Linked DNA regions of Homo sapiens: region 2 is linked to region 1. Evidence: fine-mapped expression QTL. Tissue or cell type: whole blood. Region 1 holds a variant in brackets; the other region holds the start of a gene. All regions are shown on one strand. Distances are between the middles of the regions. Region 1 overlaps SORL1 (sortilin related receptor 1). Region 2 holds the start of SORL1 (sortilin related receptor 1).

What was found. PIP is the estimated chance that this variant, and not a neighbour inherited with it, causes the effect.
Region 2: it holds the start of SORL1, and the variant in region 1 is fine-mapped to the expression of SORL1 in whole blood (TOPMed, PIP 0.92).

The regions. Positions count from the first base shown.
Region 1 is chr11:121,537,937-121,553,475 of GRCh38, reverse strand. It overlaps SORL1 (sortilin related receptor 1), which reads right to left. Exons shown (of 48, transcript NM_003105.6): 13 at 9,750-9,928; 14 at 8,047-8,233; 15 at 3,388-3,516; 16 at 2,806-2,891. Among named protein-coding and RNA genes, the nearest start is that of SORL1-AS1, 93 kb to the right of the region's middle. RefSeq lists an enhancer at 1,265-2,464. The variant G/C (reference allele first, on the strand shown) is at 6,546.
Region 2 is chr11:121,443,232-121,458,770 of GRCh38, reverse strand. It overlaps SORL1 (sortilin related receptor 1), which reads right to left and starts at 6,457. Exons shown (of 48, transcript NM_003105.6): 1 at 6,155-6,457. The coding sequence starts at 6,439. It overlaps SORL1-AS1 (SORL1 antisense RNA 1), which reads left to right and starts at 5,804. Exons shown (of 3, transcript NR_183636.1): 1 at 5,804-6,096; 2 at 8,872-9,075. RefSeq lists silencers at 4,447-4,496, 6,341-6,390, 6,521-6,570 and enhancers at 5,621-5,670, 5,691-5,760, 5,801-5,850, 5,861-6,050, 7,441-7,500 and 2 more.

The DNA.
Region 1 (15,539 bases):
TATTCATATTGTTCACAACACCATATGGCAATTCTATGAACCTCTTAGATCTCCAAAATAATACTAATAATGCATTTGTTCTTGGCTATTTACAAAATGTTCCACAACATAATCACCACAAAAATTCTGTTTCTACTCAACAAATATAAATTGTGTACATATTGTGTATAATGTGCTTACTACGTATCGGGTATTGTTTAAGACCCACAACAACTGCCTGATGGTAGAACTCTTGTTAACCAAATTTTACAAATGAGAAAACTGAGACCAGAGAGGTTAAGTAACTCACCCAAGGTCACACAACTAGCAAGTGGCAGAACCAAGATTGGAACCCAGGCACTCTGGATCCAGAGTCTATGCTTTAACCACTACACTGTGCTGCCTGTTATGATACAGACGCTACCGTGGATGATTTTTAAGATGTAGAAATGAAGGTCCTGAGTGCTGAAGATACTTACCTAATGTCAGACAACTGGAAATAGGAAGACCCAGTACACTGTCTTGTCCACTTAGGGAACGGCTTGGGAAACATCCAGATTCTTCCCCAGGAGTGGACACAAGCAGCACACCAGCATCTGTGTCTAAAGTGTGCATCTTGACAGTGTGTTGCATATGGGACCAAGATGCAAATCGGAATTCTTTTGCTGCATGCCTGGGTTAGCCATTCCTGCCCACTTCCTGATTCCATACACTCAGTGACTTAACATGTACCACTCACCTTCTTTATAAAAGCTGTAATATAGATAATGCATCAAAAAATAAATCTACCTACAATTTTTAATAAGGTAAGTTTTCCTTCTTTTCCTTTGGTTCCAGGTCACTTTAGAAGTATCTATGTTACCATCACATGGTAACCTACCTCCCCTTTTGGTTGTCAAGGAAACCTTCCCGCTGTCATTCCCAGGGAGGGGGCCAGCTAAGGTATAGGGACATGAAAGCTACATTTGCAGCAGCAAGGCTTTTGCCCCACATCTCTCTCCAGCATCTATAAACCTCATTCTGTCACTCTGGGCTTTTTTTTCCTCTAAGAAACTAATACCCATAAAGTAGAACCTGAATCCAGAAATACGTGTTTTAGGATTATGTTCAGAGCAGCATGCGGCATTCCAGCGCGCAATGCTTAACCTGGAAAAGGAATGGAATTCTTGGCTGGTCCTGGCCAAGGAATGTGTGTTTTCATAGTAATTGTAAAGGAAGAAAAATTCTTGCATTTAAAAAATCCTTCCAGATGCCCAGATTACCTCATCTTTGCAAAGATATTACGGCCCCCATTAGTCCTGTGAAAGCATCTTTTTCTTTCCTGGTATATCCCTGCCTCCTATTCCATGCCTTTTTTTTTCTCTCTTTTACATAGGAGGTGGCCCACAATGGAATGAGATTTCTCCACTTCGTTCCCTGTTCTATCTTCCAGTAGAAGAGAAAATAGCTTTCCTGCCAGTTTAGATGGCTTTAAACAAACTGTTTTGTCCCTTGCTGAATTATCTTCAGAAATATTTATTACAAAAGTAGGCACTCCAGCCCCTCAAGAGCAATCACTCAAACCCTACTAACCCACGCCCTCATCAATAACAGCTCTTGTGAGGGAAATATTTGAATATTATCTGCTCATTTGTTGGAATTTGCTGAAGTGGTGGTTCTTTTCAAGCCTCCATAGTGAGGTATGTTAATTACTCTGGTAATGATGAAAGATTAAATTAAGGGACTAACGAACTTAGCATGAAAAACACCAGGGCAAGCTGGCGGCAGTGAGCAAAAGAGAGGGCTGCCCTGCCCTGCCTGTGGAGACCACACACTTCTTTCATGATTCATTCGGTGCTTATGGCTGTCCACGTAAGACACCACCACCCACCACAGACGGAAGTTAACTCCAGCCATTTACCTTCACCAAGAGGTAATGGGCAGGAAAGAGGGCACAGAGGGAATAAAGAAGCTTTAAATGAATAAGAACTGGAAACAGAGTGAAGAAAAGCAACTAAGAGATTATTTTTCAAAGTATCATAATTTCATGTCTCTGTGGTAAAGACCCCATGTTACATCACCACTAAATCTAGCAGAAACGTGTTTTAGAACACACTATACCTTTATAGCATGTGAATCATTTCAGAGAAGTTTTTCTTAATTAGCATGCATAATGATTATCTAAAATAGTGAGAATGATATTTATTTGCCATTTGGGCAATGTCCAATGAAGAGCATGGGGCTTAGAGTCTGAATTTCAACTTTGTCACTTACTAGATGTGTGACCTTAAGCCATTTAACCTCCTCTGAACATGCTTCCTCGTGAAAAAGTAAAAAACAAAATTGATAATATCTGCTTCCCTGAGTTGTTAAAAGGGTTAAACTGGCAACACATAAAAAGTACACTGAAATCTATAAAATTCCATTAAAATTTTAGTTACAGTTAGTTTTATTATAAAATTAACATAGACTACTTAGCTACTTCCTAAGAAGTCACACACCTCTTTATACTCAACTTTGACAAACAGATTAAGGAACACACAAAAGCCTGTGGGGATCTTTCTACCCCAGTGGATGCTGAATAAATATTTTTCAATTAACAAAGGGATTTCCCTCAAAGAAACTGAGCTGACACAAAGTACTTTCCATTCCTAAAAACGGGTATGGCTATGTACAAGTTCAGTGTGGAAACCAACCTTAGGGAAAAGAGGAAGCCCTGTGATGCTTGTGACGGCCATTGTTTTTCTCCACTCAATTAAAGGAGCCACAAGCCCGGACTTGGGTGAGATCGTGATACTGCTTCAACCATGTCTCAAGAAATGAAAGGGAAGAAACCACCTCTCTTACCTGCCAGGGGACAGGGGACCAGCTCTCCTTCCAGTCGCGCTTCAACATCTCCTCCGCTACAAGTGTCCCCAGAAATCTTCCGGTAGCTGTCACCCCACCCCAAGAGCAAGAGGTCAGAAACATGGAAGAATAGCCACAAAGGCATCCCAGCTGGGAATACACTTACTACCCACGGCCAGTAGAGTCCATCCACTCATTTCTCTTTAGAACTAGAAAGAGGATGTTCGTAGTTCTGAGTCAGTTCTCCTTATAATTAGACTAGGCAGGCCCAGACAATTTAGGGCACTGTCCTGGCCAAGATTTTTAAATATATCTCTTGAATACATTCCTCTGAAGATGTTTCCCTGCTGAAGTTGATGACTTAAGATATTCCTAGAGTTTCAGGGATGCTTACAGACTTGCAATGTGGAGGTAGGAGAGTTTACAAATACCATAATTTATAATGTTGCCCAAACTACTTGCAGGCTGTTAACTTGGAATTCTAGAATTTCGAGTGTAGAGCAATCCAGACGGTCCTCTATGCTCTCTCGCTCCATGTGCGGACCGCTGAGAACCTGACAGGGCAACCTCTGTGATACATACCCTCTCGTTCTCCTGTAAGTAGAACCCACAGGGCAAGGCACAGGAGGGGAGTATGACTTTCCAGAAAATTCCGGATCTGGAACACAAACCTCTAATGACAAATCTTCACTCATCTTGAAACCGAAGTCACTAAAAAGGCAATTGGGCTTTGTTAAGGCCACGGTTTTATACATTTCAGGCATTCCTGTACCAATTCTGCTGACTTTACCTTACTACTTTTCACTTTTATTATAAGTTATTTAACATGTCCCTTTAAAGAATATTTACTTTTTATATAAAATACATCTTCAAAAGAAGATTTATATCAGAACCACAGTTGGAAAAACACAATCACATGCCATAAATAGACCAAAAAAAAAAAAAATCATCATGCCAAATCAAAACAGTATTAAATTTTAGCCAGATCCAGTTCCCAATTTAAGACTCTGGACCTGCCCTCTCTGTTAAAAGGGATTAGGCAAATGTTACAGTTACTAGCAACCAATGAGACGTTCTTTTTGACAGAATCTGAAGAAGTAAAAGAGGAATTTTAAAAGAATAACCTTTTTAAAAAATTATTTGGGGCCGGGCATGGTGGTTCACGCCTGTAATCCCAACACTTTGGGAGGCCAAGGCAGACATATTGTTTAAGCCCAGGAGCTCCAGACCAACATGGGCAACATGGTAAGACCCTGTCTCTACAAAAAAGAATAAAAAAAAATAGCCAGGTATGGTGCTGCACACCTGTGGTCCCAGCTACTTGGGAGGCTGAGGTGGGAGAATCATTTGAGCCCAGGAGGTCAAGGCTGTAGTGAGCCGTGATTGCGCCACTGCACTCCAGCCTGGGCAACAGAGCAAGCCCCTGTCTCAGAAAAAAAGAAAAAATTTGACTAGGGGTTCAATGTTATTTAAGAGTATATCCACATACTAGCTAAGTCACCCTGTACTTTGAGATACAGTAGTTAGGTTCATGAGACCTCTTGTGATCTGGAGTCACATCTGCCAAACCTCCCAGCTTGAAGGGCAGCATCCTGGAGTAGGAAGCAGGAGGCCTCAGTCGAAGACGATTCTAAAACGAGGTGACTGTACTATGAATGTTCTAAGGCCCTTCCAAACCTGTAAATTCTATAATTCAATGAATTACAGAATATATTCAAAGAATTATAGAACAGAACATATATTCCACGTTCATGTGCTCTACCAGAACACATTTATTTGCTCTATTCAATTCAACAAATATTTAGGTCCGGCATGGTAGCTCACGCCTGTAATCCCAGCATTTTGGGAGGCTGAGGCGGGTGGCTCACTTGAGGTCAGGAGTTCTAGACCAGCCTGGGCAACATGGCAAAACCCCGTCTCTACTAAAAATACAAAAATCAGTTGGGCATGGTGGCACGCACCTGTAATCCCAGCTACTCTGGAGGCTGAGGCAAGAGAATGGCTTGAACTTGGGAGGCAGAGGTTGCAGTGAGCCAAGATTGCACCACTGCACTCCAGCATGGGTGACAGAGTGAGACTCTGTCTCAGAAAAACAAAAAACAAAAAGAAAAACTCCAAATATTCATTAAACATTTCTGACACAAAAAGTATTAACAGATACACAGAGAGTGATTTGTGTGCATTATATCATAATCCACATTTAATAGTTTGTAAGAATTGTTCAAAAGGCAGCAGTTTTGTCACTGTATCAAATGTGCCTCTTTCATTACCTCAGTTCGTTATTACTGAACGGCCACTTTAAATCTTTTTAGGAACCAGATAAAGCATTAGCTAATTACTTATTTGCCTCCAATAGCAAAGCACTCTTCCTGGGCAGCTTTCTTTGACCATAGGTCATGACCTAGTGGACTCTGAGAGTACTTGGGAGGCCCAAGACTAGATTCTTCCCCTCCCAAAAAAGTGCAAAAGATTGCAAAAGGCCCCATCATACATTTAAAAGTCAATGTTGTCTCCTAAAACTTGTGTTTTAATTATATGTGTGTATGTATCTACACGTACATATGTAAGTACAGGGTCATAAGAGAAAATGTATTATTTACTAGGGGTTGCAGTCAAGAATGTGAAAGCTGTATGACTTGGCAATGTCGAGAAATATAAGAACATAAAAGAATCTACCATGGAAATCAGGAAACATGGGCCAATAGCTGGGCTTCCCAGTGTGGTCTAAAAGGACTATCAGAAATAACCTGGTGTTCAAACACAGTTGTCAACCAGTACCTGAACTAATGGAAAGATACTATAAGCTTGCTCATTCTCATCTCATTTCCTGACGTCCATCTTGGGACCATTTTCCTTCTCAGTGCCATAGTCCAATGCCATCAAACATCTCCAAGAGCCATATAGTTGGGCTGGCTGCCTTCCAGCAGCTACAGCAAGCAGAGAAACAATTGGGAGGGGTGGAGCGGGGAACAGCTGACATCCATATACCCCTTACCATTTCAGAGGGTCATCACCCCACGATCTCATTTGGCCTGCAACCCAACTCCACAAGGGGCAGAGCAGGTGGTTTTACTGGTCTACAATAAAAACACTCCACATACAAGCAGGGTGAGCATACAGCAGGTTCCAGCAAGGCAGATGGGGTGGGCATGGTAGACCAGCAGGTCCCAGGCCAGTTTACCCAGGAGGGCACACCAAGCTCCATTTCTTTTCTTGTGTGTGTGATTTTTTTTTTTTTTTTTTTTTTTTTTTTGGTGAGGGTTGGGGAAATGTAGGGCAAGAGAGAAAATTTTAATGTTATTTGTTTTTAAGCCTAAATGTCATGAAAAAAAAAAAAACCCCAAAGATTTGTTAGACTTTCTTACCTATTTTTTACTTAGTCTTAATTTTATTTTGAAGTACATATTGGGGATAGGAAGAGGGGAGAGAGAGGGCACTATGATCTTTTCAGGGATTAGGACCTCTCCAGTCTCAAGCTGGTCTGGGGAGGACTACCTGGAGCCAACAAAGCTCTCAGATTAGATTAGACTATAATGCAAAAGTGTGTAAGAAAGAGCAGAAGGCAAACAGCATGGAACTGAAGTCACCAAGAACATCAGCCAGCCCTGTGCTTTTGCTGTTAAAGAGTCTGTGTCGTTACCTTGGGAGCACACACCTTTCTAAGGAAATGACTGTCTTCTCTGTTCTAAGCCTTGCTGCTCAAAGGGCGAATGTGCAGATAAGCAGCATCCACATCTCTT[G/C]GGAGCTTGATGGAAACGCAGAGCCCCAGAACTCCTGAGGCAGAATCTGCATGTGACCAAGGCAGAATCTGCAAGTGATTCATATGCACCTTAAAGTTTCAGAAGCACTGGTTGAGAACAGAAGTGGCCAAACCTGGTTGGCCATTTTTGTAAATAGAGATTTACTGGATCACAGCCACGTTCATTCCTCTAGAGCTGCTTTCATTCACCCATGGGCACTGCCATGGGCAAAGTGAGGAGTTGTAACACAGATCATAGAAACCATATGGCCTACAAAGTCTAAAACATTTACTATATGACCATGTTCCAACCTCTGGTCTAGAATACATCAGAGGTTTCTGGCTTTAGTCAAGACAAGTACAGCTGCCCAAAGCAAAATCTAGTTCCTCTGTGCCTCAGCAACCACTGAAATATGAGTTGTGTATTTATATTAAATACCCATGGCTCTCTTGGTGCTCCTGACTAAACTACAATGATTTCATGCTGAATTACAGACTACAGTGACTGTCCAGGAGCTCTGAGATCCTCTGTACTCTGCCACTAGAATCCTCTTCCTACAGCTAAGCTCTGTTCTCATCATCAACTCTCCTCAAAAGCTCCTACAGCTAAGCTCTGTTCTCATCATCAACTCTCCTCAAAAGCCGCTGAAGGCCTCCTCCTAATTATAGAATAAGGTTCATCCCCTCTAAGGTCTTTCTCCCCTACTGTATTCTATCTTTTCAGCCTCATCTCCAATTGTCATCCCCATGTCATACACCCAACAAGGCATCCCAATTCAACTCCCAACCACACCCTGCTGCCTCTACACCTGACTGTTGCAGACACATGGTCTCAAAACACTGCTGTCTGCAAATATTGATGCTCCCTGAGAGCCCAGCTCAAACAGCACTTCTTCCAAAAATCTCCTCATTCTCCAACAGCAATCCACAGCCCTCTCCTTCCTTTCAATAGTCACAATAAAAGTACCAGTTCCTCCTCTGAGGCACTTGCTCTCTTCTATCTCCTGTGCCAATTAGCCATGCACAAATCACTTCTCCTACTTTTAGCATTCGCAGCAGTGCCTTGGATATTTTGCTTAAGGAATAATAAATGATGCAAACACACACACATATACACACACTAACATCCCCTCGTTTCAGATAAAGAAATAAATCCCCTCTAGAATAGGGTCCTAAGGAGAAGGATTAAAAACAATGAAACCTTCAGCATATTTTTGGGTTACCCTAATAGAAATAAATCCCAGAGCTATCTATTCCTGTAGAAATAGCTGCAGCTCTCCTAGACACCTCTACCGCATTACCTGGCTATAAGAACTAAAGAAAACAACTTACATGAAACATGCTTAGCACAGTTCCTGGCACATAAAAGATGCTTCACAAATACTTGTTTCCTTCTATTCCCTTCCTTTGCTCAGGGAAAGGGACCATGCCTAATCTCTTCCCCCAACACTGCTGAGTGAATAAAACACAACTCAGTCCCCAGCCATCAAAGAAGAACTGACCACTCATAGTCCTCCCGGGTGCAGGAGCAGTTGGACACGACCACCGGCCTGTCAAAGTCCTCTCCATTGAAGCATGTGGCATGGGGGGTCCGCCGTTTGAAAACAGTCTTGTGTCCCAGCAAACACTCATTCCCCCGCTCATCAGATGGTGACCACAGCTTGTAGTCATTCTCTGTGCAGGGAACTCCTAAAGAAAAAGGAACACAGCACGAAGCATTAGAGGCAGGCCCATGTAGGGTTTCCTGCTATGCCTCAAGGTGCCTGGCCTCAACCCCCACTTCCTGTCTATCTGTTGCCACCCCGCAAGCACACAGACCCTCCAATCAGCTTGTTTTGAAGCTGGGCAGCCCTATGCCAATGAAAAGGATACCTGAAACGCAGGCATCTGCCTGGAAAAGTTGGAAAGAAGCAAGCCACCTTTAGGCACTATCCAAATTTCCGAAACATTACAGAAGAGTCAGCAGTGCCCTTTAGAAATGAGTACTCAGAAGTGTTTCTCTCCTAGAGAACTAGGGAACAGCTGAATCCTTGATGAGCAATACCATTGGGGGTTAATGTTCCTGGCCTGCTTCCTCAGGCAGTGAGGGCACATCTGGTAGTGTGGCCCGAAGGCAATGGAGGGCTCGCTGGCCCTACTTGAAGGTACAGGATCTCCATGGAAAGAGGCTGGAAAATGCTAAGATACCTTGCACCATCACTCCATCTGCCACGTTCATCGAAATGTCTAAGTAGGGTGCTTTCTACAAGCATTCCAAAGTATGCCTATGTCTATGTTGGCACTTTGTGTCTCTTATATATGTGTCTTCAGTCAGATTAGATACTACCCGAAGCTGATACACAACCTTTGACTCAATGCCATGCAAATCAGTAAACTTATTAAACTCCTACAGACTGTTAGGCTATCAGGCTTTCCAGTAGGTACAATACAAATATGCACAGGGCAAGTTCTTATCTTTAAGGGCTTTATAATCTAGTCAATGGAAGGTGAAACACACCGAGTGACAGACACAAAGTTATGCATACACTTATGTTCTGGACATAGAGAAGAAGGGAGACGTCTTCTGGTTGGGATATCAGCCACAAATGTGTTGGATCCTGAGATATGAAAAGGATTTCGAGTAGGGGAGGCTGAACGGGTGGAAATGAGAAGAAACAGGGCACTCCGGGCAGCTAGAATCAGGTTAGCCAAGGCTGAGAGGTAGGAAAGGGTAAGATAAGATGGGGAAGCAGGGAGAGGATGCTGAAGAGTTTCACTTCTCCCTGCATACTTATGCATCCTGTATCTAGATTAGCAGATCACAACTAGATCCTAGATGGCTTTGAGAGGACCCTGTGTCGCTTGGCACACTGACTTACAGACAGTCAGGCACACTCACTGAATACGTCCAATTGGCACTGCTGATTTGGAAATATGTTTTTCATTCATGCATTTATCTACATATTCAGCAGACATATATTTAAACTTCTTATGTGCCAGGAACTGCATGAGGAAACTAAGATACAAAGAATAGCACCCAGTCTTACTAAGAAGAATTGAGCAGGCCTTCAATTACCTCCCTATGCTTTTTGCTAACTCTTATGGGCCCATCTCCCCCAATGAATGTCAGGCTCTTCTGAGTACACAGTATCTAAGCTGGTGCTTTGCACATAACAGGAAGTCCACGCATATCCATGTGAAAAGGTCCAAGGAGGCAGCAGCTTACCCAAGGCATCCGTGGCATTGACCTGGAGGATCAGCCAGCTGTGGACATTCTCTTTGTTCGAGCCAAAGATGGTGAAGACAGTGCTCTTCTCCCCAGGTTCTGTGAGGAGGCCATACACAAACACTGGCTTCTCAGAGAAGATGAATGTTTTCCAGGTCTCCCCTTCATTGGTACTGTATCTGCCCAAATGCAAGTAAGAGAATCCTTGCAGTGAAAGTCTCTAAGGCAAAGGCTTGGTTTCCATATAACATTCACCAGGAACAGGAACCAGGGCTCCTTGGAGAAATGGCTGATCCTGGGCTAAGGCAGGGAAAGTTTAAGGAAATGCTCAGAAATAAATGCAGTCATCTCAAAAGAACACAGGAACCAGCCTGATGGGGCTCCAACTGGCCGAATTTAGGAGAATTCAAACATAAAAAAGAAAAATGATGGTAACAGATTACACATTGAATGAAAATAGGACATGGGTCTCTAATGATACTAAAAGACAGAGGAGCAAAAGAGAAATTTTTTTCTTTTTTTTTTTCTTTTTTTTTGAGATGGAGTCTCACTCTGTCACCCAGGCTGGAGTGCAGTGGCATGATCTCGGCTCACTACAAGCTCTGCCTCCTGGGTTCACGCCATTCTCCTGCCTCAGCCTCCCGAGTAGCTGGGACTATAGGTGCCCGCCACCACACCCGGCTAATTTTTTTTTTTTTTGTATTTGTATTTGTAGTAAAGACGGGGTTTCACCATGTTAGCCAGGATGATCTCGACCTCCTGACCTCGTGATCCGCCTGCCTCGGCCTCCCAAAGTGCTGGGATTACAGTCATGAGCCACCGTGTCTGGCCCCCAATTTTTTTCTTATATTAGAATGGCACTTAATAAGGGTTGGACACAACAATATATATATTATAATATAATATAATATAATTACAGAAAAATTATCCCCACTGCAATAACTAAATCACACAAGGATCATCACTGGATGCTAAAACCATTCGGTGAAAGTGTTGGGGCCAGGATGTTCAGATGATCTGAACAGACAAATCATTCACTACAAATGGGGAAATAAAATTTTACAAAACATAATCTTACAATGAATGATCAGAGAGTCACAATCTTAACTAAACATCATCAATAGCAGGACAACTTGATATTAGGTGCCTCCTGAATAAAGCATTGAGAATAACACATCCTCTGTGTACTATTCTATACAATTGGACAAATCCAAAATGTGGGATATTCTACACGATAACTGCTCCAGATTCTTCAAAAAAAAATCAAGGCCACAAAAACCAAATAAATAAAGAAAAAAGGCAGATAATGTGTTATAGATTTTAAAAGACTAAAGGAGTATAAAAGCCAAATGCAATGACTAAACAAATTTGCAATGTGTAAATCCAATCCAGGATTTAGTTCAGGACTGGCTAAATCCCGGATTGAAGGGGAAAAGTGGCCATAAATAATTTGAGACAACTGAGAAAATATAGTCTATAAGTCATACCGAGTTCATGTTAATTTTCTTAGGTGTGAGAATGGCATTGTGATTATATAGGAAAATGCCCTTATTTATTGGAGATACACATTTAAGTAGCTGTGAGGGAGCATGATGTCTGCAACTTTCTTTAAAATGATTCAGCTAAAAAATAATGGATGGATACACAGGATAGATAAATAGACCAATGATAGAAGTAGAGCAAACCGGCAAATGCTAACAATTTGTGACTCTAGGTGAAGGTTTCATGGGTGTTCGTTATACGGTTTTTCCAACTTTCCCGTGGTCTTAGAAATTAAAAAGTAAAAAGTTGAAGGAAAGTATATACTGAGGAAAGTCTCCAAGACAGACTATAACAGAAGCAGGAAGCCAGCCCTTGAAAAACTAAGCAGCATTTGAGTAACTGCACTGATTTTACATTATCTTTGGTGTCGAAGAAGGAGAAGAGGGACGGAGAGGGAGGCAAGGAAGAAAATCTGCCCAACACTTGTTTTATCACCCAGTGAGCTGGTGAGACGCTTGACATGAGAAATCACTCAATTCAAGCCTTCTTTAGAATCACAGGGCTTCTGGGTCCTTCTTAAATCCAAATTATATGCAAAACTTTTTCTTTCACCTTTCTCATGTTTTTGAGATTTTAGTTTTACACCTTTGGGATTCTAATCCTTGACAGAAATCTTTTCGTGACATCATTCTATCCAAACACTTCATCTCATATTGAGATTATTAAAATCGATTTGGCTAGGCGTGGTGGCACATGCCTGTAATCCCAGCACTTTGGGAGGCCAAGGCAGAAGGATCTTTTGAGGCCAGGAGTTTGAGACCAGCCTGAGAAACATAATGAGAACCACATCTCTACAGAAAATTTTTTTAAAAAATTAGTCACGTGTGGTGGTGCCCCCTGTGGTCCCAGCTACTTCTCTGGAGGCTGAGGTGTGAGGATTGCTTGAGTCCAAGAGTGTGAGGCTGCAGTGTGCCATGACTGCACCACTGCAGTCCCACCTGGATGACAGAGCGAGACCCTGCCTTAAAAAAAAAAAAAAAAGATACTGCTACAAAAAGGCTAGGGGTTAAACCAACTGGTAGGGTTACAAGGCAGAATAATAAATGTCAATGGGAGACTAAGTAATCTCCCCCTACAAATCTCTCACAAGGGGAGAAATCTCACCTGGCAGATATGCTTTTGGTTTAAGAAAATTTTGAAACAGATATTTGGATAAATTAACTCATTCAGTCTCCTTCTTGTAACCAGTGTGAAGCTAAAGGTTTATATTACTTTTAAAGCAAACTGAACCAACAGAGTCAACCTATTATCCAGACATGATGGCAGCCATCTGCCCACTCAGTGGTAATGCTAAAGTCTATCTATGTGTACGTTGCCAAGTTAATTCTCTTTAAGAGCTCCTCGAACCCAACATAACCTCAGGAAATGAATCACCCCATTTCTTGAGAGTTCCCAGAGGACTCTGACAATAACTCATTAATGAAATAACAAGCAGGTACATGACCAAGCATAGCTTGTATCTGAAAATACACTGCTCATTTAGAAAATGGTGCTCTTCAGAATTTTGGGGAAAAGGCTCTTGTCTTATCAACAGCAACAGTTAAGAGAACACGCATTTTGGACTGAATTCTGACCCCCAAAGGAGAACTTGTATTGGTAAAAGTAAGTGACAAGAACCTTGTGAAGAAACAAAGTCATCTTTGCATTCTTTTTTTTTTTTTTGTATTTTTAGTAGAGATAGGATTTCACCTTGTTGGCCAGGCTGGTCTCAAACTCCTGACATCAAATGATCCACCCACCTCAGCCTCCCAGAGTGCTGGGATTACAGGCGTGAGCCACCGCGTCTGGCCCATCTTTGCATTCTTAAGTTATGAAAGAGGATATAGGGCACTAGCCTTTAGGAATGAAGAAATCAAACTGTTCAGATAAAAATATAGACATAATCCCAGGGCCAAAAACTCTCAAGAAGATGGGAAGGTCAGATAATATAATAATAAAACATAATATAACCACAGATACTCTAAAAGGAAGAAGTGTGGTAGATACCCAACTTAGGACTCTAGCAGGCAGCTACCCAGAAAAGTTCCTGATGAGTTCAGGTTTCTAAAGAACATATTCAAGATGGGAAAAAAGGTCATATAACCAAGAGCAACAAATTCAGTTACTGCTAGCTAATTCCAGCTGTAATTCTCATAGCCAGTAGTCTGTTGGAATAGTAGCAAGATAAGTTCAAAATGAATCAAGGTTTATGTTTCAAATTACCAAAATAATTGGCAGACTGGTGGGTCAGTGGATTGGTTATCTGGCAAGTTCTATAAAGAATTAGAAAGGAATAGGATCATTGCTCTGATGGCCAATAGAATAAATAATAGCAGACATAATCATATGTATCAATTTAAAAAAACAGAGCACTTGATACACATTCATCCATTCGTTCATTCATTCATTCATTTATGAAAACCATCACCCAGTTCTTCCTATCTTTACTAGAACTTTGAATTGAAAATACTTTATGTTTTCTGGCTGATTGGAAAGCTGAAAACAAAAGAAATAAAGACTTCGTTAGTAAAAAAAAAGAAAAAAATCTTTGAATAACAACATAGTAGTAAAGCTGGGTCTAAAAAAAATAGAAAAAAAATTCTATTTTGCTTTTATCTTTATCAAGGAAAATAATCTTCAAATTGGACAAGAAAAACCATTTAAGTTAAAGGAAAATCAGTACAAAATAAATTCTAAGGAACTGAAAGACTTAAAGATAGGATGATTATAGCATCCTTTTCAATAATCTCTAGGAGAATTATGAAGAACAAAGATCTCAAAAACTAGAATAGGGAAAATACTTTTATTTCCTTAATGAAGAAAAGGTGGTTTCAAGAATGGATTATGAAACAGTTTATTTGAGAGCACTCAGACGAAAAGGAGGTCAAGGCTAAGAACCCAAATGGTTTCACACACAAGTCACAACAGACTAACTCCATTTCCTTTCCTCGTGGTAATTCTTGATTTGAAAAACAGGACAATGACACAGAACATTCTTTTTTTCATGAAGATCTTTGTGGACCACGCAGTCAGATAAAATTCACTGATGGTAAAATAAGCACATCCCAAGAGTGCTGACGTATGGTTTGATCTCAACCCAAGATAAGACTTCTAGTTCTCACAGAGCTCAACACATCTGTCAATGATCTGGATAGGGATCTGGAAGGCGAATCTGCCAAATTTGCAAAGGGTAAAAGGCTAATTGTATAAATAATATAATAAATGCCGGGGCCAGGCACAGAGGCTCACGCCTGTAATCCCAGCACTTTGGGAGGCTGAGGCGGGCGGGTCACAAGGTCAAGAAATCGAGACCAGCCTGACCAACAAGGTGAAACCCCGCCTCTACTAAAAATATAAAAATTAGCTGGGCGTGGTGGTGCATGCCTGTAATCCCAGCTACTCGGGAGGCTGAGGCAGGAGAATCGCTTGAACCTGGGAGGCGGAGGTTGCAGTGAGCCAAGATGGCACCACTGTGCTCCAGCCTAAGCGACAGAGTGAGACTCTGTCTCAAAAAAATAAATAAATGCCAAAAATACAATTCAAACCAAAAAAAAATAAGCAAAAATAAAAATAAAGCTCCACATGTAGTTTCAAAAACCTGTTTGCTCAAATACAGGACGGGGAACATCCGTCCTGTTGATTGATTGATTGTATAATAAGATCCATAAGAAAGAAGGATCTCAGGTATTTTAGTTAAAGTGAACTCAGCCTACTGATACCAGTTAAAAGATTGATAAATCTCAAAATCATTATGCTGAGTAAAAGAAGCCAAATACAAAACATACAAACATGAAATTCTGGAATAGGCAGCTACAGTGATAAACATACCAGTGGTTGCCTGTAATTGGGGCAGGGGTTTGGGGGTGGAGAGCACTGACTGGAAAGGGGCACGTGAGTATTTTCTGGACTGATGGAAATACTCTACATCTTGACATGCACCCTTCAGAACTGATTAAATGGTGTAGTCAATATCTGAGCATCCTGTGGTATGCAAATGATACCTCCTCTCAAAAAAAAAAAAATAGGAGCCACCAGTTTGAGATGGCTGTTAAAAATGGAAACACTGTCAGAGGTTTTTATTAATAGATACAGAGTGTTCAGAATCATGAAGACAAAATCTCAACATCTTCTGCATGTTTCAGGCTATTGGGGCCAGATCCAGGTACCACATTTTAAGGCACTGACATCGTGAGGCAGACCTAAGGGAGAACCTAGAAGATAGAGATTGAGGATCTATAGAATATGAGGAAAGGAACCGAGGATATTCAT
Region 2 (15,539 bases), 95 kb after region 1:
GGATTTTAGCTTCATCAGCCACTTCAGCGCTTGAAGGCCGCCCATGCCACTTCTTCGAAGGCCCAGGGTTCACAGGTCGATAAGCCAATAAATTAGGTCGAAATTAACTGTGGCTCATTTTAAATTGAGGGAAATTGATTTTTGCATGTACGTGGCTAGACTGACTATACCATCTGCCAACAGTGTCTGGCATACCTAGAAAATGCATAGGAAAGTCCCATGCTCATCAACAGAGAATGCCTCACCCCCACAGCCCAGACCACCTCTGGAGAAATACTAATCCCTGAATATTCAAACCAAAAATGCAGTGAGCTCTCTTTTACTTTCCATCACATTTATTTAAATCCAAATAAATGGAGGAAAGGTCAATGTAATGCCCCCAGGTTTTAATACATTTTTATTCATTTAAAACATTTAATACATTTTTATCAACTCTCAATTATCTGCATCTGAATTATTGTCGCAAATTCTAAACTCCAAACTGCCTTTCCCTGAATACATTTAGGCCAGCCATTTCCCTTATCAATAGATCAAAGAATGCAAACTCATTTTAATATTCACCTGAGCAAAACTTAATTAGGAAGGTAAACGAATGCTTTAAAAAAAAGACTACATAAATACATAGCAAAAGCAAATCGATTATTTTTTGGATTACCTGCTCTCCAGATTATGATAAGACTGCCCCCTGTGTCCCTCCATTACAGTGGGTGGAACAAAGCTGGCTCCAACTATCTCTGCCCTGGGATTCAACAATGACACTATGAAGATGGCTGTCATCTCTAAGGAGGAACAGACCAAAATCTGACAATGAAATGTTCCTACAACATCCACCTTTTGCCTTGGGATGTTCGTTGCTATAAGGATCTGCCTCGTGGATCCCAAGTCTCAAAGCAATTTATTAAGCATACCATTAACTTCATTTTACAGAACATAGAGAAAACATTCTCAGACAGAACACAAATTAAAACCAAGATCCATGATCACTGTATTCTGATGCTCTTACAAGCCTGGACTCCACATCTCAAGGGAACTGTGCTCCAGCATCTCTCCAAGTTACAAGGGGGCTACATCAGGCTGCTCTCCTGCTCTGCAAGAACGCTTGAAGTGAAAGGAGAATGAGGTTTTTCTCACCTGGCCTGGAAAAAAAGTAATCATCTATTTTATATTATGATACTTCAGGTAATTTTCTAACAATTCACCATCATAATATCACAAATATAATTTAGAGCTAAAGTTAATCTCATTATTCAGGATACCAGGGACTACAGGTAACAGGAAGCCATTTATAATTCAAGTTTCCAATTTTATGTACATACATGTTGTACATGCATAGACTGTTTCTGGAAAGATATACAAAAATATTGATAACAACGGATGCCACCCGGAAAGGAGCTCTGGGTGAACAGGGGGCATGAGAGGGAAGGAAATTTGTTACCACATACGCTTTTGTACAAATTTTGTTTTGTAAACGTGCATTACCTAATCAGACAGCTTTTTATTTCATCCCTCCAAATTCCGCCTCCTTACTCTTCTCACCAACCCCTTTCCTCCATTCCTTCCCCCTCGCAAAGCCTCCACCTTCTGTGCCTCTAACCATGCAAGCTATTTATGAACTAAAAGCGGCCAGAGACTGGGCACAGAGCTCCCTAAGAAAAGACGCCAAGTGGAACCAGGAAGAGCTTTTCAAGGTCACGTCCCTTATTGAGCCAACCCAAGGCCCCGAGCAACTCTTCAGCTACATAAAAGCCAACCTGAAGCAGCACATTCTTTGCCTTCTCATCTTATTCTGGAAGCACACAGGTCAAACATCCTAACTTCAGAATCAACCAGCCAATTCTTTCCCAAGCAAGTGTATCATGGAAGAATCTACTCAAAAGAGATCTAAAGCTGAACGGTATTCCACCCCCAAAGGAGGCCTTTTGTCCCAGGGCCTTGTGCTGTAATAGACACTTTATTTTCAGTCTCAAATCAGGACACTGAATACTCCCTGGCTTCTAAAATGTAGGAATTATGAAGAGAGAGCTTGTTGGAAGGAAAATAAACCTGTAAATCCTGTTAGGCTTTGTGCTTTATTCCAAAGGATTTTTCCCCAAAACAATACCATTAGCATAAACCAGAATGATAGCCCTAAAAGGGAGGATTCTGTAAAATAGAATCCAAGCTCTTCATTGAAAATAACTCCCATATAGCACAGGCAAATCAGGGCTCCACTATCTGTAGGCCATGCCGCTTGCATCCTCACTACCGAATGAGCCATCTCATTTTCACTATCCATGTGTGGGTTCACTGTATTCCTCCTTACAAATACATTTTATATAATGTGAATGTGCTTCCTACCCTCTGGGCCTCTCTTCTTCCAGGTGTGTGGCTGGTCCACAAATACTCATTAAGGGCCTCCCAAGTGCCAGGGAAACACAAGAGAACTTGATCCATGCCCTCAAGGAGCAAACAGGAAGATGAGACAGTTGAGCAATTCTAACACAAGGCAGTAAGTGCTGCCTCCAAGCTCAGAAGAAACTCTTCCCACCATAGCCTGAGAATACCAAGAGGTATTCCTTGGATGTTAAAGAATGGAATAAGAGCTTCCCAGGCAAGGACAAGAGTTGGGGAAGATCATTTCAGGCAGAGGAAAAAGCAGGTATGATGGCGCAGACAGACAGAGCTTATGAGAAATCAGGAGGAAATTCAGTGTGGCATGAATTAGGGAATCCCTCTTCTTGGACCTGGCCTTTAAGAAGGGGCTCAACTTCTAAACTTTGCCTTTTTTTTTTTTTTTTTTAGATGGAGTCTCACTCTGTCCCCCAGGCTGGAGTGCAATGGCGCGATCTCGGCTCACTGCAACCTCCGCCTCCGGGGTTCAAGCGATTCTCCTGCCTCAGCCTCTTGAGTAGCCAGGACTACAGGCATCTGCCACCACGCCCAGTGAATTTTTGTAGTTTTAGTAGAGACGGGGTTTCCCCATGTGGACCAGGCTGGTTTCGAACTCCTGACCTCAAGTGATCCACCCGCCTCGGCCTCCCACAGTGCTGGGATTACAGGCGTGAGCCTTGAACATGGGCAGAAAAGTCCTGATATCTGCCAGCAAATTATTTTCACCCCTACAATCACATTTCAGTATCATAAATGTGCCTTTAAGTAATCATGGCAGAAGCCGGTCTCCCCACCTTAGAGAAACTGAGGAGGAAAATGGTCAAAATAACCAAGCCTAGTTTACCCAAGACATTAGCGAAGCAGAGGAAAAAGGACCGACATTGACTCCAGCACAGGGCTCTTTCTCAGATGCAAGTATTCCCCTAGAAAGCCTTCCCTTCTCTTCTCCCTGAAGGTGGTGGCCTTAACATCGCCTCTAGGCCTGCTTCCTTCAGGCAGCTTCTGCTTCCAGCCCTAACCTGTGCTGCCAGTGTCCTCTTAACCTCACTCAAAGGTCAGAGGGCAAGAAGCTGGACAGTGTCTGAGCCCACCACCCCTTATCTCTCCATCTCCCATGCGCTGCATGTCACACAGCCCGTTATCACACCATTGTAGAGTTGTGGCTGGTTTCTTGTGACCATGTTTCCTGGTTCCCATCCTGGTACATTGACATGCCTGTATCTGCATCTGCTTGCTCTCCTCCTTAAATTGTAAATTTCCTAAAAGCAGGAATGAAATTTTATTCCCCAGCTCACTGCACCTCCATAGAACCACACTCAAGTCAAGCAGTACTGTTGGAAAACATCACCATTCCTTAGGTTTAAACGTTGAAGGGGAAAGTCGTGATTACAAAGTGGAACTTGGCTTAAGGCTAAAAGTAGGACCATATAATTTATTGTCACATCTTGACACTTTTGAGAGTGAAGGGGGTGCTATTCATAACCACCAGAGACAACTTAGAAACCAGGTCTGCCCCAGGGAAACACAGAGGCAATGGTCATCCTTGCTAGAAAGATCATTCCAAATAGATGTTAGTTACTCCAGAGTTCCAAGAGGGGCACCTCAAACCCCTTCAGTCACCAACCTGTGCTTGCATTCTGAAGGGTCTGCACCAGATAGAACTTGTGGCAGAAAGCCCAGTACAGGGAAGTTCTTCCTTTTATCTGACTCAAATCCTTACAGATTCAAATTAATTCCACTTCTTATTAACCTCAGAGCAAGAGGCAACAATGGCATAGGAAGGCAGCCACAGAGAAGAAAAATCTCACCCTTGTACCCTCACCCTCCGGTTAGGAATTCCTCATTATGAGTTTGACTGCTAGTTCTCCATCCTTCAGCTGAACCAAACTCAATCTGGCTGGCCCAGAAACTCAAAAGCCCAGGGTTTGGGAGTCACTCCCAGTGAGAACAGAGTTCATGTCCAACCTGCCCCACATCCCCTGGAGCTTTTCATAAACCAAACCCAAGAAAGAAATGGCACATGTACACATATTTTTGAAACCAGAAAACTTTTTCCTCAACCTAAACTATAGCTTCAGGGGACCTGAGCACTGGGAGGGATTGTCTCCCACCAGCCCCCAACTCCCAGTTCCCAGAATGCTGATTCAAGAGCACAGCAGAGCTGGGCTGACTGCGGAGGCCCAATGAAGAAGTGGGCCACTCCTCCTCCTTCTCCCACCCTCCATCAGCCCCATGCTGGTGTCGCTGTTAAGAGCAAGGACCTTGATGACTTCTTTTTGTTCATACACATATTTGTCATATGGGGTGGGGACAGGGGGACAAGGATCTGGGCCCAAGAGGAACTGAGCATGCAGGTTCCTGCAGCCTGTGGCCACCATTAGTTACATGCCCTGGGGCACACATTCTTGCCCAGGGACCAATAGTGGAGGGAAATCCAACGCTCCCACCCAGTCACCACCATCCTTTCCCCCTTTATACCAGATCTATTTTATTTTAGAAAGGAGGTATTTCAGCAGCATTGCATAAAGACAGGGTGACTGCAGTCAAGCAAAGGTCACTGAGACAATGCAGACAAAAACTAGAGAGCAGGCCACCTTCCCGGTATGACCTTGGACTAGTCACTTCACCATTCCACGCTTCAGTTTCTTCACCAACAAAATGACACAATAGGGTGATATGTTTACAAGGTTCGTCCTGGATCCAAGGGTTGAACATTTAACTCTGTATTTCCTGAAGAAATGGCTAAAGTGAAATTAGTGAGAAAAGGCAGAACTCAGGGTAATCTTTTATTAATAATTTCTACTTCAAAAGGAACAATTTGACTCTAGAAAACAAGTGTATTTACCCCCTCCTCTGGTCCTACTTTTTCTCCCCCACCGACCTTATACTTTTGCTGATGTCAATCTTAACTGCAGGACTGGGAGTCTCATGAGGCAATAACACGGTCAAATTAATTTTGCCAGTGCTGATCCTAACCTACAAACTCCATCTGCAATTCCTCGCAGTAAGTCTGACCATAAAAGTGAAATTCACGTTACTTATGATCTAATAAACCTATTGCCTGGGTAGAAATAAATCACTTATAGAATAATAATGCCCACCAAATTTCCTGCAGTCCTTTCAAATCTCCAAGTGCCATGAGGGGTATTCCTCTCCAAAATAAAGTTATCTTGACGGGGGTGGGAGAGTCAGCATCTTGAAGGGTGGGGAAGAAGGAATGGAGAGCATCTCACACGCTCGCCAAAAATTAAAAATTAAAAATTCAGCCTTTACACACGCACACACATACACACACCTCTTGTCTGACTGTACAGAGATAGTCGACAAGCTTTCAGGTTTGCCCACTTTTATTGTGCTAATAATGCTAAGTGTGGAAACCCCCACCTCGTGCTGTTCTGTGTAAGTGTACCGCAACTGCAGGGTGCTCGCCTCCACTGCCAACTGATGATACACTAAAGAAAGCCCGTTTTTTATCCAGATGTAAAATGAAGCTGCACCCCTCCTATACCTGCCGGAAACTACATCTCTCTGCACACACCCTGGGGTAATACGCACTGCACCCGGCGAGTTACCTGGAATACGTTTACTAAATCGACAGGAAGAAGGAAAGATCAATGCGATTCAAGTGCTGACGGTTGTACTCGTGAAGGAAAAAAACAAATGCAAGCCGGGAAGTCCCCAGTGGTGCCTGCACCTAGGAGGCGACTGCAACGGATGGATGCGGGGGTGAGGAAGTGCAGGGAGAGGAAAAAACTGGAGGGAGGCGGGTTGCAAAACTGCTCACCTGTCCGTACACCTTGATGGGCTCGGGCTGCAGGGCAGCGCTCCGTTTCCTCCGGAGCGGCTTCTCGTCCGCGCGGCTCGCCCCCCTGGCATCCCCGCGCGCCCACAGCCGCAGCTCGCGCGGGTCGCCCTGCACCACGAGGAAGCCCCGGTCCTGGGGCAAGGGCGCGCTGCCGCCGTGCAGCCTCTGCGTCCAGACTTCGCAGAGAGCTCCGGGCGGCAGCAGTGCGACCAGGGTGAATAGGAACGGGAGTCGCGACTCCCTCCTGCTGCTCCGTGTCGCCATGTTCGGGCGAACGCTACTGCAGGTGGCGCCGCCGCCAGGAGAGAATGTGCAGCGCGAGGCCAGGAGAGCCGCTGGGCCGGGACCGCGCGCGCCGCTCCCGGGGCTCCAGGCCGCCCGCGCCGCTCCGGGCCGCCCCGCTGCGCCCGCCGCCGCTGCCGCCAGGTCCCGCTCGGTTCGGCGCGGCGCCGTCACGTGTGAGGCTCGCAGCGCGTCCCTTTCGCGCACTTTCTGCGCTCGGCGGCCTCGGCGGCGACTCCGGCCCCTCCCTGGCGCGGGGATGGGGAAGTTAAGGCAGCGAGCGCCGGTGGGGGTGCGTCCCTTCCCTGGCGGGCACACCTCCTTGTTCTCCCTGCAGGAATGAAGAGTTGCATGGGGCTCGCTCGTTTTCTCTGGAGTTAGTTGCGTCCTATACAGGGTCGTGTCGAGGTCGTCCTAAACCGTGGCCACTTTCCTGAGTGCACAGCCCGCAGTAGCGCCACAAGACCACCTCCCCCCGGCCCCGGCCTCATCCCCACCTCCAGGGAAGAGTCCAGAGCCACAGAATTAGCTCCTAGAACGCAACCAACAAGAGTCCAGATGAACCCGCTCTATTGGGAAACTCACAGTTTTTCATCTACTCTGGGCACCACAACGTATTTGCAGGGGCCACAGCAAAAACTACCCTTGATCAAGCTACGTGCCCCAGCCTGAAGCACAGCAAATAAACATCCTGCACAGAGGCAGTAAAAACAAGGGTACATCTGACAAAGAATGCACCACACCTGGACAATTATTACACAGCTATACAGGGTGTGCTTGCACGCACGCATGAATACCTGTGCGTGGCACAGGGCCCCAGCGGCGGCTTGCTTATGATCCCTCCAAGGTGACCAAGCACTGAGCCACCCTGCCTCAGCAGTAAAATAGACATATTTACCAGTCCCTTCAACCCACAGCCAGGAGCTAGGCAAACACCCACAGAGGAGGGAGGACACACTTTAACCCTACATTCAGCTTGACGAGCCAAACTCTCTGAACCACAGGAGATAAAACTTCTGCCATGGAACTGCTAAGGTACGCCCAAGGAAAATATTTTTTTTGCAGGTTAGTGGGAGCAGCCAAAGTCTATGTACTACTGCAACCTTTCCTATTTCATTTTATGTTTCACTGCCCTCTGAACTCAGATCCTGGTTTTTGATAAGAATAAAGACACAGCAAGCAGGGCTGAAAGGGAGACTACCTTTATAGTTGCATACAAGCTGCTGTTCAGGGGAAGGAAGGGATGGTCAGTTCAATTTTCTAAAAACATTCCTCATCTCCGACAAGCCACGGTAGCCCGATTCCTACCCCGGCCCACTCTAGTACTTTTCAGGTAGCTTAGCAAAGCCCCCTCCTCTACCTAGGACTACCACTGACAACCTGCCAGAGTCAGGCCAGCTTGCCTCATCTCCCTGAAGCCAGTATTCAACCACCCTACCCTACCCCATGCCAGACTTGCTGGGGACCTCTGCCTCAGGTTCTGCACTCTCCCACCTCCTCCCACACCCGATTTTCTCCCCAAGTCAGATGATGTCTTTCTGTCCATCTCAACATAATTACAGAACCATCCAGTTCTCCCCACCAAGCAAATCATGCATTCTCTATGTTAACCACCCTGCTTTGTTCATTATACATTGTATACAGGTATCAAAATACCACACTTTCCCCAGTGTGGTATTATTGGGGTGCCTTCATCCTGCACCCCAACTTTGATGTTATTTCAGAGGGATTGAGGAAGTGGTAGCTTGTTTACAACCCAGAGCTGGTTTTGAAGCTGAGAGGAACGCCTTGCTCATATTGTGCAATTCAGCTCTAACTCATATATATAACATATATATTTATTATATACTTATATATGTCAATTAAAAATAATAATTCAAACAATCATGCATCCTCCAAGAAAGCCACTGAACCACTGTCACCTCCCACCCCTCATCTAGATCAGCTCTGTCTGGTCAGCATCACCTTACCAGGAATGGACAACCCCATGGTCTCTCAGGACCAGCAGCAAAGATATCTCTACTCCCATTTAGCCCTCAAAGGAAAATGAAGGGAATATGGCTAAAGTGAGAACATCCTGTAGATGATTCAATTATTGGGGTTTTTCCAACATATATTTAATGAGAACCTTCTCTGCAAGAGCAAGTGTCAGAGTCCCAGCAGAAAACAGAGACAGGAGTCTCCTAAGTGTGGATTTGAAGATGGGCATCTGTTTGCCCACACAAACTGCTGGCTTAAGGTTCAGATGGCCCCTTGCACAGAAGGACTAGTAGGGCAGGGCCAGCTACTTGCTCATTTTGATGTTGATTTGCAACTTGAATGCTAGAGAATTGGTAAGAATATTCAAACATGGTTAATTAACTCCTTGCAAGCCCTCCTATCTAATCATTATCTACATTCCAAACCATTCTCAGGTAGATAATCAGCAACCCCCCAAGACTGTGCCTGCTGCACAACTACAGAACGCAGTGGAAGACACGCTGAATTCTGAGTCAGAAGGTTGACTTTCTAGCTGTGGGGACTTGGCCAAACCTCCTCAGAGCTTCAGTTTTCTCATCTGTAAAATAGAGATCTTAATCCCTACCAATCTCACAGGACTGCTGAGAGTATCAGATGAGGTAAGTATATAAAATAGCTGTGCAAATTTGTGTGAAGGCCTCCAGAGAGAAATAGTGCATGCAGGTGGCATTAGAAACATAGATTCTAGTCCTGGCTTTGCAACCAAATTATTATGTAATTTTTTGTCTTGATCATCTTGTCTCTTACGATTTCTTCATAAGTTAAATGAAAAGACACCTTTCAGCCCTGACCACTCCCAAACCTTCAGGACCCCCACTGGGTTGTGAGATAGGAGCAGCCACAGGCAAGGTCACCCAGGACAGGAGTTAGAGCTGAATCGTGCAATATGAGTGAGGTGTTCCTCTCAGCTTCAAAACCAGCTCTGGGTTGTAAACAAGCTACCACTTCCTCTATCCCTCTGAAGTAACATCAAAGTTGGGGTGCAGGATGGAAGACAGTACCATATCCCCCTCTGTCCCATCTTGCATGGCCTTGCTCGGATGCTGCCCAGCATCATGACGAAAATCAACATGCACGGAAATGTAATGATAGACTCACAGCTGTGTATAAAACAGTCTTAAGCCTGTTGTCAGACTTTAAACTGCCCTCCTCTGTCCTACTGCCCATCTTAGGCCACTGGAGATGGAGGTAGAGGACAAACACACAGAGGTCACAGTGTCCTACATTTTTATCCAGGTGGAGTCATGTTTAAAATAGCAGCAAGGACAGCCACGAAGAGGAAAAAACTCCCCAAAGCCTAATTTGACTTCTTTCTGTTCTTTCTCTTCCTGTGGCCTTCTCACATGCTCACCTCCTGGCTGGCCAACTTCTATTCAGCCTTCAGGTTTCAGAGCAGCCTCCTTAGGCACCTAGGCTAGGTTACAGCCCTCACTCTAAGGCTCTAGTCCCCTGTAGCCTTTGATACTTCCTCTCTGGTCACTTGCTTAATCTCCATCTTCCTCTTAATCTACAAGCAGCAGAATGACAAAACCAGTCTATCTCATTCAAGTCTAGACGCCCAGTGCCCAGCATACTCTTGGCACATGGTGGCACTCAATGATATTTATAGGATGCATGCATTTAAATGAAGGTGAGAAGTGACACCACCTTTGTCCTGGTGGCAATGGTTGGTTAAGGGGCCAATGTAGTTGAATCTCAGATCTTTTCTTACCACCATCTGCTTCCCACCTCGTTTTCTCCCCCAAAGCAGGCCTCTCTGAGTCACGCAACCAGACCAGAGTCATTAAAGCAGAAAAGGGACTTCCCTGCCCTTAGGATGGTAAACATTGTTCCCTCTTCCATGTTACTTTGGCCAAATAACTACCATTGACCTCACCAGCTCAGGCAAAATAGAAATACCCGCCTGCCCCCAAAGAAATAACTCCTTCTCCTGCTGTTGCCAAAATCTACTTCAGTTAGGAAAGCGTCCAAGATAATTGATGAGGTTTAAAATACAAATGCACCCAGAGCATAGAATAAGTAACTTATATTCTCACTCTTGATTAAATTAAATCCAAAGAGGAGTTTCTGGAAATAGCAGTAAGTTATTTTGCATAGCAGTGATTTACATTTGCATAACATTATAACAGCATTATCTATCTCATTCCATCGCACAGCAACCCTTTGAAGTGGGCCAAAGCGAGAATTATTGTCACCCCCATTTTACAGACCTTAAGCATTGAAATTCAGAAAGGAAGACTATTTGCTTTGCCTAAAGTTAAACAGGCTTGCTAACTTACTGTTAGTAAGGGATAAATTTGAACCCAGGCTCCCTTTTTCTGCCACATCTGATACCTCTCTTAGGAAGAGAAGAGCTGGTATTTCAAGTCCTGGGTATAGTGGAACAGCGGGAATTAGGGCAGAAAGAAGGAAAGGGAGTGGCTGTAGGCCTCACCTCCTTCACAACTCAGCCCTGCCTTAACCAGCACTGTCTCCCTTCCTAGGTACCTAGCCTAGGTGAGATGCTGTATCTGCTTGACCCTCACGCCCTGATTGGGACAAGTTAGCAGTAATGTTACAGTTACAAAGCTCACAAGTCCAGTCCTGTTTTCTATACTTTTCTAGGAGATGAATTTAGCGAGGGATTTGGTTTCCAATGTGTTTCAAAACCTGTGAGAGAGCGCAAGTTTTAGAAGGTCCCTCAGACAGGCACAGTGACTTATGCCCTTAATCCCAGCACTTACAGAGGCCAAGGCGGGAGGATCGTTTGAACCCAGGAGTTCAAGACCAGCCTGGGCAATGTGTCGAAACCCCACCTCTACAAAAAATACAAAAATGAGCCAGGCATGGTAGCACATGCCAGTAGTCCCAGCTACTTAGGAGGCTGAGTGGGGAGGATCGCTTGAGCCCAGGAGGTCAGGGCTGCAGTGAGCTGAGATCGCACCACTGCACTCCAGCCTGGGTGACAGAGAGAGACCCTGTCTCAAAAAAAAAAAAAAAAAAAGCCCTCAAGTTTTGGTTCCACTGTTTACCCTTGTCTGGCCTTCATCCCTGCGTAACTCAACTTCCTGAACTTCTAGATCAAGAAAGCATTTAGACCTTTCTCACAAAGTGTGTGAAGCGGGAACCTAGAAGTTTCTTATAATTATGTAGACCCAAGGACAAACCTCCTGACATAAGACAATGGGTTGCTGAGGGTCCCTAGGAAATTACCTCTTTCCCTGGGAATATAGAGGAGTAGGACTCCCCCTCCTGGGTTTGAAGTGAATGAGAGGAACTTAAGCTGAAGATTATTTGAATATCCCCGTGTAATTACATATCAAGGCTTGTATCTTCTTCCCTTGAGGCCTTTGCTGTACATTCACTGGGGATGCATGCGTTAGGCACAGACGAGCCTGGGGATGTGACCAATCAGCTTGGACACAGCACAGTTGAAATGTGATGCTTTGTTTCAGCAGATGCCTCTGCACTCTCTTAGGGCCAGCAAGACAGGGAAAGCAGACAGTCAGACTAGCTTTTTGGCCCACGTCTCCTGGATACTTTCCTTTTTTTTTTTTTTTTCTTCTCTTAAGACAGAGTTTCTGTCACCCAGGCTGGAGTGCAGTAGTGCAATCTCAGCTCACTGCAACCTCCACCCCCTGAGTTCAAATGATTCTCCTGCCTCAGCCTCCCGAGTAGCTGGGATTATAGGCATGTGTCATCACACCTGGCTAATTTTTGTATTTTTAGTAGAGACGGGGTTTCACCATGTTGCCCAGGCTGGTCTCGAACTCCCGTCCTCAGGTGATCTGCCCACCTCAGCTTCCCAAAGTGCTGGGATTACAGGCATGAGCCACCATGCCTGGCCTTCTCCTGGATACAGTCTAACAGAAACCTAGGATCCCCCAGACCCCTTTTCCAGTCAGAACAGATTGAGATGCTCTCCCCTCTGGCCTTGTTTATTCATTAACTAAAAGGCCACTTCTTGACCTCTTCCTGGATTTCCCCCAACTACCCCTAGAGGCCCTGAAACTTGCTTTAGGCCTCTTTTGAGATGTTGATCATGTTCTGCCTTCCATTAGAACAACGATTTTGGTACTTATCTCCTTTTCTAAATTGTAATGATGTCTTGGAGTCTATTCCCCTGTCTTGTACTTAACAGAGACAGAGTAGATCCTACAGAATTGAAGTAAAAGTGAAGGGAGTGGTGAGAGAGAATTACCCCCACCCCCGCTCCTCACACCCTTCGGCAGTTGGTTCTGGAAGGAGGAACAATTTTGAATCAATGCTCTGGGGAGACTGAATTTTTCATTCTAGTTTTCACTGCAAAGAATGGCAGAGAGGCCTCTGAGGGCCTGTCAGCACCAGGGCAGCCAGCCTGAGCAAGAAGGGGGTCCTTTCCCTGCAACATATTTTTATGCATGTCCTAGTCATCATCTGCCCAATAATAGGTTCAAATGCCTATAAAGGACACAGCCACTAACTGCAAGGAACTTGAGAAAGAGAAGAAAGATAAACATGAAACTAGCAGAAATATGTAAATACAAAAAGAATTCTGTCTTGGGGGGAAAAAAGATGAGTACTGGCTTTGGGGAGGGTGATAGGCAAACTCTCTGGAGAATAAGACGTTATGAGCTGTGGTTTCAGGTGTGTGTGTGGAAGTTGGAACGGGACAAGCAGAGAAGGCTAAAGTGCTCTGGTTCCGGGAGGAAGCAGGAAGTTATTTTCAGCGTCTGAGGAGAAGGAGGAAAGGTTTCAGGGTAGAGTGGCGGCAAGGTAGGGTGTGGGAACAGGTAGGTGGGGTGGTGCCTGCTATGGGAGGCTGGGAAGGCCAATGGAGAGAGACACCAAAGGAGAGCTGTGGGGACAGCAGAAGCTGGGGTGGAGCGCCCAGCTCGTCCCTTTCAGCACTGTGGTGCAGGGATCCGTGGAGGCCGTGCAGCCAGGGGTTCTGAGAAGTGCTTCTTCCAGCACCTGTTTCACCAGGGCCACAACACGTGTTCCAAATGCCACTTTTGCCCATCTCCTGCTACAGCTCAGGAGAAGTGGGAGGACCTGTGTATCATGCATATAATCTCCCAGAGGGTGCGACAGATCACGCCCCTCACTGTGCGCCTTCTCTAAATCCATCACCCTGGAAATTTTACGTGGTGTCATCAGCTGAATTAACACCTGTTAAAATCATCATTCCCACCAGACTCAAAACTGCAAGTGCTTTTAATGAGGCTCCACATAAAATAATACATTTTCTCAGAGCCCTTAAATTACATTAAATCCTCCACACCAAATAAATTATTGAAACTGCGATTAGAGTTTGGATCATACCAACAGACCTGCTCGGAGGCAAATTTTCAAACTGCCCAACCACCTAAGCAAAGAGGTGAGTGAAAAATTCTTCGTTTTCAATGGTTATTTCAACAGAAGCTTCAGTGCTAAATTAGCAGTGAATTTTGTGTATGAATTTTCTTTGAAATCTAACATTATGTAAATGAAAAACCCAACACAGCACAAATTAAGACTATTCTTAATTCTAAAAGGCTGCTATTCTGTGATAATGACGCCATGGAATACTTACAGTCTGCCAACCATGGAGTGTGGTTCCTGCTCCCCCATCTGTCTTGGATGCCTCCCAGCAGGGGGACACCCACCGTGTCCTCATTTCTTTATCCTGCCCACTGAAGTCAGATCCTGTCCACCCTTCCACCCCTCTTCCACCTCATAATTTAATCTTGCCCAGATCATTTAATCACCTAAAATGGAACCAGAGATTGAAATGCGCTTAACCTGCATCCATGTGCAGTGTAAAGTACTAGAGGCGTGACGTCAGAAGCCCACTCACCTGGGTTTATATCCGGCTCTGCCAGAGACCCGCTGGATCTGCTCAGGTACTTTCTCAGAGCCTAAGTTTCTTCATCCGTAAGTAAATATGAATTACCTACATCTGCAGGTTTAAAGGATTAATTGAGATTTTACATGTCAATGGTTTAGAAAGTGAACGCCTGGCACATAAAACTTGTTTAGCTAATGATGCCTATTATTATTGAGCAAAGCTCGGGTTAGGTATTGTTGGTAAATCAATTTGGCCATTCAGCAATTGTTGGGTTTTTATTCAGGTTTGTACATGTCCCTTCAACCTCACTACCAGGTGATATGTTGCTATAAAAACTGAGATTAGTTTTTATAAATTAAACCAGGTTTCTCTCTCTCTTTCTCTCTGACACACAGACACACACACACACACCCACGCGCACACACACACACACATTTCTTAGCAAGCAGGCTAGAGGCCATCACACATCCTGTACCAGAAGGCTCAGGGCACCCCTAAAACCCTTACAGGAGAACCTAGACCCCAAACAGATGGAGCAGTGTTCTGAGGCCAGGATCCACCAAACTCCTGGTCAAATCAGGGAACAGTTTCCCTTTAAGTGGAGAGACAAAAGACCAGATGAATTCAACAGCTCTGGAGGAGGAATCAGCCTGCTGGGTCTGCTGGATTCTTACATCTTGTCCAAGCAAGCCCACTCCAGCTATGTTTCTTGAGCAGCGCTAATTTCACCAATGAAAAATAATAACTAATATTCCTTATGCTAATTTATACACCTTCTGATTCAAATGTACATGATGTTCTCAGCGCAGCTCCCTGAAAAGCTTGAATTCCTGACCAGGATGCTTCAAGTGCCAATCACACTTAGAGCATGGATTTCTGATGAAGTCCCTTCAAACGTGAGCTGTACACCCCTAGCATGGATTAAAGTTAATTTATACACATATACATGACTCTGTTTATATTGAAGTATTTAAAATCTACTACAGACAATATAGCAACTATGAATAAGGAAAAGCTTCCAGCATCAATGGAACAGGAGAGTGGTATAAAACCATGGCTTTTCCTTCAGTGGGAATATTCATGCCTTAGGTTCTTGTCTGTTTGACATGGCATTGTGAGAATTTATTTTAGATATGCCACTGTAGACAGCCAGATTTTACTGTGTTTGTTTGGCCAGCAACCTGGGGCAGTCATTTGTCCTAATCGGGAATTCATGCCTCAAGGGTGGTCAGCTAGCACTAGAAAGTCCAACGCTAGCTCCAGGGTAGCTCTAAA